Regions from separate parts of the Homo sapiens genome. Here region 2 is linked to region 1. Evidence: fine-mapped expression QTL. A gene starts in region 1. The other region holds a variant in brackets. All regions are shown on one strand. Distances are between the middles of the regions. Region 1 holds the start of MPP1 (MAGUK p55 scaffold protein 1). Region 2 has its middle 56 kb from the start of BRCC3.

Region 1 (4,401 bases):
CTTCCTCACAGGTTTTCCTGCTTCAAATCTTGCCATTATAGGAAAACTTTCTGACTGCTACTACTGGGCAGGCAGCTCCTAGGGAGATACTGGGTCATTACCCTGGATGTCCCAGTGTGGCTCAAGGTCCTTGTCAAGCATTATCTCATGTAAATGTTGCCACAACCTTCCAAACTTGCCAGTTTCATAAAGGAGAGAAACCTAAGGCACAGAGAGCTTCAGCAGCTTGCCCAAAACCATGCAGCAAGTGAAAGGCAGAGCTTGCTGCTGCAGCAAAGACTGGTAAGAGCCCCAAAGGGAAGGTGAACCTAAAGAAATAAGAATCCGCAGGTTGTGGAGTCAAGCCACACTTCATCGTGTGAAGAGTCTCCCTCAGATGCTCACTTTGGCACAGCTGGATACTATTTCATTCAGGGATTCAGTAAGTTTTCTTATTTGATCTTCTTCAAATCCGTTAGTAAAAACCAAACAAATTAGCTAACTGGTAGACTATCTCCAATATTACAGTATAAACTCACAGCCCCACAAAACGTGCTGTTTACTCAGAGGTTGTGCCCACAACATAACACTGGTGGTGACAGGGCCTCTTTTCAAAAAGGCACAGTCTTTCAAGCATGCCCATAAGGGAACACATAGGTTTACATAAGAACCCCGACACAAAATACATCATACTGTAGGATTCTATTTATATAAAATTCCAGAAAAGGCAAATCTATAGTGACAGATCAGTGGTTGCCATGTTCCAGGTGGAGGAAGGTGACTGACTGCCAAGGGTCACAGGGGAACTTCCTGGAACCTTGAAAATGTTTATTCTTTGTCATGATTGTGGTTGTCGTTACATGACTATATACATCTGTCAAATGTCATCAAACTACACAATTAAATTTCATGAATTCTACTGTATGCTAAGTGTACCTCAATAAGACTTCCAGAAATAAATAGATTTTTTAAAAATAGTTGAGGCTCAGCCAAGTGAGTACTGATTGTGGGGAAGAAAAAAATCACAAGTCCAAGTTTATGGGGAATCAGGTAACAGAACTTGTAATTTTGTCTCATCATCTGTATAACAATAGCATCTTTCATGCCTGTATTATTTCTGCACTCATTTAAACTCAGGCTGTTGCAATCCTGATTTGAAATGACAGGCAGGTGTGAATGCCTCACTCGAGTGGAATATAAAGGGTAAGGCAATGCGGTGCAGCAGACACAAAATCTAGCCTCAGTTCTGATGCCCATTACTTGTTTCCTTGAGTTAATGCCACTTAGCCCAAAGAGTCTACAGCTCTACTGCTTGCCTTATGTTGCAGGGACCTTCAGTTTTTTCATCTGTGAAATCGGAGGGTTACTGTAAATCCCAAATGTCCATCTCTTCAGTCATTTATTAATTTAGCAAACATTTCTGAGGACCCACTTATTGGGCACTTAAAGAAGTGAGTATGACACGGCCCTGCCCTAGAAGACCTTGCAGTCTAGGAAGGAGGTTCATGCTGTGACTTCTGAGCTTCTGCCTGGCTCTCTGGTTCTCTCTGGACATTTTCCCCTTGGGACCTGGCCAGCATGCTGTGAGGAAGACCAAGCCACAGGGAGAGGCTGCTGGTTGATTTTCTGGCTCATGGCTCATGGCTCCAAATGAGTAAGTGAGCCGTGTCCCCACCTGACAGACCCTGAGTGACGACCACCTTGCTGGGCCCAATCAAAACGAAATATGAGAGACAAGAAAATGCTCAGTGTTGTAAACCAGCGAGTTTGGGAGAGATTTGCCAGTAACAGATAAGCACAACCTACCCTTAGGGCATCTTTGAGGACGGAGGTTAATAGCTATTTACCAGCCATCCATCCCTGGAATCTGGATTCCTTGTTCCACCCGCAAATATACACTGGCCACCCTCTTTGCACCATAGCACAAGGGGACCTGCCTAAATGAAGAGGAACAGTGAGTGAGCTCTTTAGAACCAGAAGCTGGCTTTTACAATCATTTCTGCTGACCCAAACACAAGCACTTCAACAACAACCAGGCAGACCTACTCCTTGATGTGTTCCTTAAAGACTTTCTGTTACTCTGACTTCCGTCCACGAGGAAGTTTTCCTTGCCCTTAATAAGCGCACTGTCCAGGCCGCTGCCTCTCCTGATTTCCAACTGGAAGGACTGCTGGGGGCAAGGATCCACTGCACCAGCAGCCCGGTACGAACCCGGCCGCGCGCTGGCCTTGTCCTCACCCCGCCGGCTATCGCGGTCTCCGACCTATGGCCAGGACCCGCAAGGACAGGCCCCCCGGGGACAGGGACCGGGACAGGGAAAGTCCCGAGATGAATGGCCGAGCCCCGGCCCAGCGCCCTTGGGACTAGCGGGGCCCGCTCACCTCTGGCCGACTACGCTTCTGCAGCAAATGCTCCAGGTAGAGGTCGGAGAGCGCCGTGTGCATGCTGCCCCCACTCTCGCCCTCGCTCGCCTTGAGGGTCATCTCGCAGAAGCTGGAACACTGGAACGCAAGACAGGGCAGCGCTGGGAATGACAGGGCCCGGGGCCTGCGGGGCTGCGGAGAAGGCGGGAGACGCGGTGCGGCTGGGCCAGTCACCGCCCCGCAGGCGGTGCGCCGGGAGGGCGCGGACGGAGCTCCGCCTACGGCCCGCCCACTCCTGCCCTCGCTCCGCCCATGGAAGTCTCCCACGCCCCGGACTCCGCGGCTCCCTGCGCTCCGAGAAGCGGCCCTTAAAGGGCCTGAGGAAGTCGTAGCTGTAGGTGGCCGCGTGAGATGAATGCCAGAAAGATAAGAAAGGGGAGGGGGCCCCCAGCTTCTGGGTGGTTGAGCACACGGCCCACGCCCCGTTGGGCCTGAGCCGCCCGGGTGCCCTGGCCAAATTCGTGGGGATTGCAGGGAGGCAACAAGGGAAATCAGAATCGGCCGGCTTAGTGGAGTTCAAAAGATGTAGGTGAACTCTAGACTCTTCCCATAAATTGATGCGGGCGCAGCATTACCCTTTGAGATCTGGACATTGCGAAAATGCCTTTAAGGCTGCTGTGCTGCTGCACCCTGTCATTTAATTGTTGTGTGCTGTTTGATGATGAAACATCTTATTGCCTTCAAAACCAAACTGTTTTTACTTAGGGCAGATCTCCTGCTGTAAATGCCACAAAATTTTTCCGGCTCAGCGAAAGCAAAGGCAGCAAACATTCCTTAGTAACCCTAGAGGAGGATTCCTTAGCATCCTAACGCATTGGAGACATTCAAACACCAGTCACAGCGATGGAAGGCTTTCTGAACAAAACAAACATTTAATGGGCTTGTACGGCTCTTGGTCCCCTACCCCAAGCTAGTAGCCTCACAGTATTAGAAGCAGTTCATCACTACATGTAATCTTATTCTGACCTTCCTCAAAGCTTCCTGGGAAGGAGGAGCTCATAGCCAAGAGGAGAAAATCCAAGGGCAACAGTTTAGAGCTGCATTGCCCAGTTTTCTCTACCAAGAGGCCGAACTCATGTGAATGACGGTTCCCTTCCTCAAGATCACTCTAAACGAACGGGGGGGGAGGGGGGGGTGGGGTGGGGGGGGAGAGATTGAAATTAAGACTGTGATATTGAGGCATGGATAGATTAATTGAGCAATGGCATAGAATAGAGAACCCCGAAACGCAACCATGCAAGTATAGAAATGTGGTATATGATAGAAGTGGCATGTTAGGTAAGTAAACAGGGACATTTTATTAACTGACGCTGGAAAATGGTTATTTATATTGGAAAAGATGAAATTGGAATCCTCATTCATGTGATATGGAAAATAATAATAATCTATTCCAGATGGATTAAGGAATTAAATGTCAAAAACATACCCTTAAAGCTCTTGACAGGAAACATAGGCAAGGAACTTTTAGACTTTGGGATACAGATTTCTAAACAATGTAGACAAACCATTGACCATAGAATGGAATAGTGGTAACTTTGACTTTAAGAATTTTAATTTATGAAGACACCATAAAGAGCAAAAAACACAGCTGTGCATTGGGAGAAAATATTTTCAATACAGATAAGTGGCAAGGAATTCCAATTGCGAATATATAAAGGACTACAAATTATTAAGAAAAACACAATCCAGTAAAGAAGTGGGCAAAACACATGAATAGGCATTTCACCAACAGAGAGACGCATATGGCCAATAAACATACATATAAAGAGATGTTCGACATCATTAGTGATCAGGAAAATGCAAAGCAAAACTACAATGAAATACCACTGTTCACCCATTCAGTTGTCAAAAATTTAAAAGTCTAACAGTACCAAGTGTTGGGGAGGATGTGAATCCATATGATTTATTGAATATTGCTGGTGGGAGTCTAAATTGGTACCAGTTGTAAGGAAAACGGGTTTCCATTATCTCTTACAGTTGAACATACATCTACCCTCTG
Region 2 (4,401 bases), 320 kb after region 1:
TATGTGTATATGTACATATCTGTCTCAGCTCCGTCCACCAAGAGGGACTAGAAGTGACACCCAGTGGTTATGAGCACAGCTAGCACCAAGATGCTGATTTCCAAACCCTCCACTAAAAATGGAATTGAATTGACAGTCCAGAAATAAGCCCACACATCTACAGTCAACTGATTTTCAACAAGGGTGCCAAGACTATGGGAGAGAATAGTCTTCAACAACTGGCGAATGGACAAGTGGATATCCACGTGCAAAATAATGAAGTTGGACTGAGATCCCACACGATAAATGAATATTAACTCCAAACGTATTGAAGACTTAAATTCAAGAGCTTAAACAATAAAAACTTTATAAGAAAACAGTAGTAAATCTTTACGATCTTGGTTTTTACAATGGATTCTTAGATATGACACCAAAGTACAAGCAACAAATAAAAAATAGATAAATTGGAATTTATGGAAGTTAGAAAATTTTGTGCATCCAAAGACATGATCAAAAAGTGAAAACTCAGGACAATGGCAGAAAATATTTGCAAATCCTATGTATAAGAGTCTAGTATGCAAAATATATAAAGAACACTGAAAACAACAAAAACCAAACAGCACAATTCAAAAATGGGCAAAGGACCTAAATAGAAATTTTCCAAAGAAGACCTACAAATTGCGAAGAAGCACATGAAAAGATGCTTGACGTTACTAGTCACCAGAGAAATAAAAATCATGAGATATGACTTTATACTAACCAGAATAAAAATGTAAGAGAATAACAAGTGTTGGTGAGGCTGTGGAGAAATTGGAACTCTTGTACACTACAGGTAGGAATATAAAATGGTGTAGACAATTTGGAAAACTGGCTGATGGCTCCTCCAAAACTTAAACACAGAATTACCATAAGACCTAGCAAGGGCATTTCTAGGTGTATATCCCACAGAACTGAAGACAGAAATTTAAACAAAAACTAGACAACCCAAATGTCTATCAACCAATGAATGGGTAAACAAAATGCAGTCTGTTCTTCAATGGAATATTATTTGGCCATAAAAAGGAATGAGGGGTAGGAGGGAGCAGGGATAGAGGGTTGATGGCTAAGAGGGATGAGGTTTCTTTTTGAGGTGATGAAAATATTCTAAGTTGACTGCAGTGATGGTTGTACAGCTCTATGACTATACTAAAAGTCATTAAATTGTTCACTTTAAATGGGTGAATTGTGTATAAATTATGTCTCCATAAAGCTGTTTATTTTTTTAAAAGACACACAAAAGAAGAAACTTTCCTGCAGCTCCAGCTGACCTTGCAGGCTGGCCTCTTCCGCTCTGACCTGTGCTCCCTAAGCTCCCTGCGAAGGAGATAAAATGAGCTCCTGGTCTGCAACAGCTATTGGTTATTGTAATGTCTGCTTTTGTTTAAAAAGAAAAAAAGACCCAACTCCTTATACAGTTTGAATTGTATATATTTGGGGATCTCTGAGTTTCCTGTATCTGGATGTCTAAATCTCTTACTAGACTTAGGAAGTTTTCAGCAAGATGACTGGATGATCATGTTTCAGCCTCTGTGAGACAAACATTACAGCAGCAGATGGCACAAGACCCAGGAGCCTGAGGATGAACATCACTGGAATCCACACACTCATCAGATCTGTGCTTCCCAGGCAGCAGGCACCAGTTCCCCCTTTGCCTTCCACCATGATTGTAAGCCTCCTGAGGCCTTCATCAGATGCAGATGCTGATGCCATGTTTTCTGTACAGCCTGCAGAACTGTGAGCCATTTAAACCTCTTTATAAATTACCCACCCTCAGGTATTCCTTTATAGCAATGCAAAAATGGACTAATACACAATTTAGGAGCAAGGTGTAGGTAAGACAAGGAAAGGACTGGAAAAGGGTGAAGTGACTGCTGTAAGGACTGGTAACATCAATCACATGGCTGTGAAAGGAGGGCAACAGTCCTGACTGGTGGAGAGAGCACACTTTAAACTCTGTGAAGGCAGAGGAGGGGC[C/T]GCTAACATCTCAGCTACTTGTCTGCAGAGCCTCTGGACAATTTAGCCCAGACTGCCACCACCACTTTCAACTCAATGGCTGGCCAACAAATCTTAATCTAAGGACTCTCAGAAACTTCCCAGGAACTGCTGACTCAAGTAGTTAACAGCCTCCATTCAGAACGATAGAATGAGATTAACTTTCTGGAAACTAACAAAACTCTTTTGTACAAGAGCTTAATAGAATTGGACCCTGATCCCAACTCAACACAATGGCACTGCTGAGGTCACTACAACTTCTTACATGAAAAGAAGCTACCTATACTAGCTTGCCACACACAAAGTGGTCTATTGTCTCTAATGTACATGGTAATGGGACAATAACACATTACCCAGGACTTCCTGCTGGTCAGTCAAGGCAGGATATGTGCAACTGTCAGCATCCCTTACTGCACCTGGGTTAATGAAATATTTAACTGGCTTGGCTCCAGTTGGGGAGCCTAGCTGCAGTGTGTATCCTCCAAGTGGGCCTAATTAGAGACTCATTCTTGTATATGTTGCCCAAAACAATCAGAATGTATTTGGTTAAGGCCCCTATAAGCACAGTTAATTAGAGTAATTTGATGGGGTGGCCTATGCTCCTGAGAATTCTTAGCTAGCTATTTGAAAAGTGAGGGATGGAGCTGTAGAGAGTGGATCTGCCATGGTGCCCTTGTGACCTGGCATGCATATATCTATGCAAGCTAGGCTTGAATTGCAACTTATCTGAGTCTTGGCAGGATGTATCATGATCCTCCCAGAACACAAGAGGATGGGAGGGTGGTGAGGTGCTGTTTCAAGGCTATCTCTAACCTCCTAATCTCTCCTGGGAGGCTGCCACTGAGACAGACAGTTTCTCATCTGAGTACTATTGAGGTCTGAGGCTATCTGCTCTGCCCCACTCAGGGTATAGCTACAGAATATAAAACTGCTAGCTGCAGTCTAAAAGGGGCTCCTCAGCAAGGGAGTGTCCCATAACTGGTGCAGCAAACATGCAGGCCTTGTTTCAGAAGTCCTGTTTGGTGCAGGGAACAAGGACATGGGGAGCTGGCACCTTTGGCCCATCTTCCTCTTGCTGTCTATGTAGGTAATAAACTGAATCTTAAAAGGACATGTCATTACTTTAGAAGCCAAATCAATCACTCTTGGGCTTGGCCTTTTTTTGACAATGTGGTAGTTATGTACAAGAGTGTCTTTGTTTTTGAGAATTGTACACTGGAGTGTTTAGGACTGATGGAACATGTCTGCAACTTGGTCTCAAATGGTTAAGAAAAAGCCATATGATAATGGTGGTACACACATGCACGCATGCATGCTGCAGAAATGTGAAGTGTTACCAATTGAACAATCTGGATGAAGTGAACATGGGAGTTCTTTGTACTATTCCTCCAACTTTTTGGTAAGTTTATAACAAGTTACTTTTTAAAATCTACTGAGCTTAAGGCCAGGGGGAAGTCTTATTTTTCACTTTGAACTCTTCTGTAAATTGTGTTTTGAATTTCTACAATGAGTATGTATTACTTTCTTAATACAAAATTAAAGTGTCCGATTTTTAAAATCACAAAAGTAATATAATAAAGGAAACTTGAAAAATGTGAAGAGAAACCTATAATTTCCTCAAAATAACTCATTTTTGGTAGTCCTTTTGGTCTTCTCTTTCTTATTTCTGTTATTCATTTCTAGTATTAATGCATCTTATAGTTTTGCATGTGGATTTCTTCATTTAACATAATTCTAAAACTTTAATATGTTGTATAGGTTTTATAATTTTAGTGCCTGTAGTCCCAGCTACATGATTCACTAAACAACAACAGCAAACCCTGGGGAGAGGGACATCTGATTTCCAGAGCCACCACATTATAACATCAAAATGTCCAGTTTTAAACAAAAAAGTATGAGGCATGCAAGGAAACAAAGTACGGCCCACTGACAGGAAAAAAAAGTTTATAAAAACTGTCCCAGACAAAGCCCAGGTCTTGGACTTACTAGACAATTTAAATCAACAGTTGTAAATATGCTCAAAGAACAAAAGGAAACCATGAATAAACAATTAAATCAGGAAAATGATATCTCGCCAAATAGAGATAACAAAGATAAAATTTTTAAAAGGAACAAAATAGAAATTCAGGAGCTAAAAACTATAATAACTGAAATGAATAATTCATGAGAGAGACTTAACAGCAGATTTGAGCAGGCAGAAGAAAGAATCAGTAAACTTGAAGATAGGTCAATTATCAGAGACCCAAGTATCAAAAAGAAAAAAGAATGAAGAAAAACAAACAGATCCTCAGAGACCTGTGGGACACCATCAAGCTTAACAATGCACCCACAATGGGAGTTCTAGCTAAAGAAAGAAGGGGCATAAAGAAGTAATGGCCAAAAACTCCCCAG

What was found. PIP is the estimated chance that this variant, and not a neighbour inherited with it, causes the effect. A credible set is the group of variants that fine-mapping cannot tell apart.
Region 2: its variant is the best candidate, but not a certain one, in a credible set for the expression of MPP1 in blood mononuclear cells (TOPMed, PIP 0.50).

Annotation. Positions count from the first base shown.
Region 1 is chrX:154,802,912-154,807,312 of GRCh38, forward strand. It overlaps MPP1 (MAGUK p55 scaffold protein 1), which reads right to left and starts at 2,574. Exons shown (of 12, transcript NM_002436.4): 1 at 2,361-2,574. The coding sequence starts at 2,462. RefSeq lists a silencer at 2,539-2,698.
Region 2 is chrX:155,125,363-155,129,763 of GRCh38, forward strand. No RefSeq gene overlaps it. Among named protein-coding and RNA genes, the nearest start is that of BRCC3, 56 kb to the left of the region's middle. The variant C/T (reference allele first, on the strand shown) is at 1,993.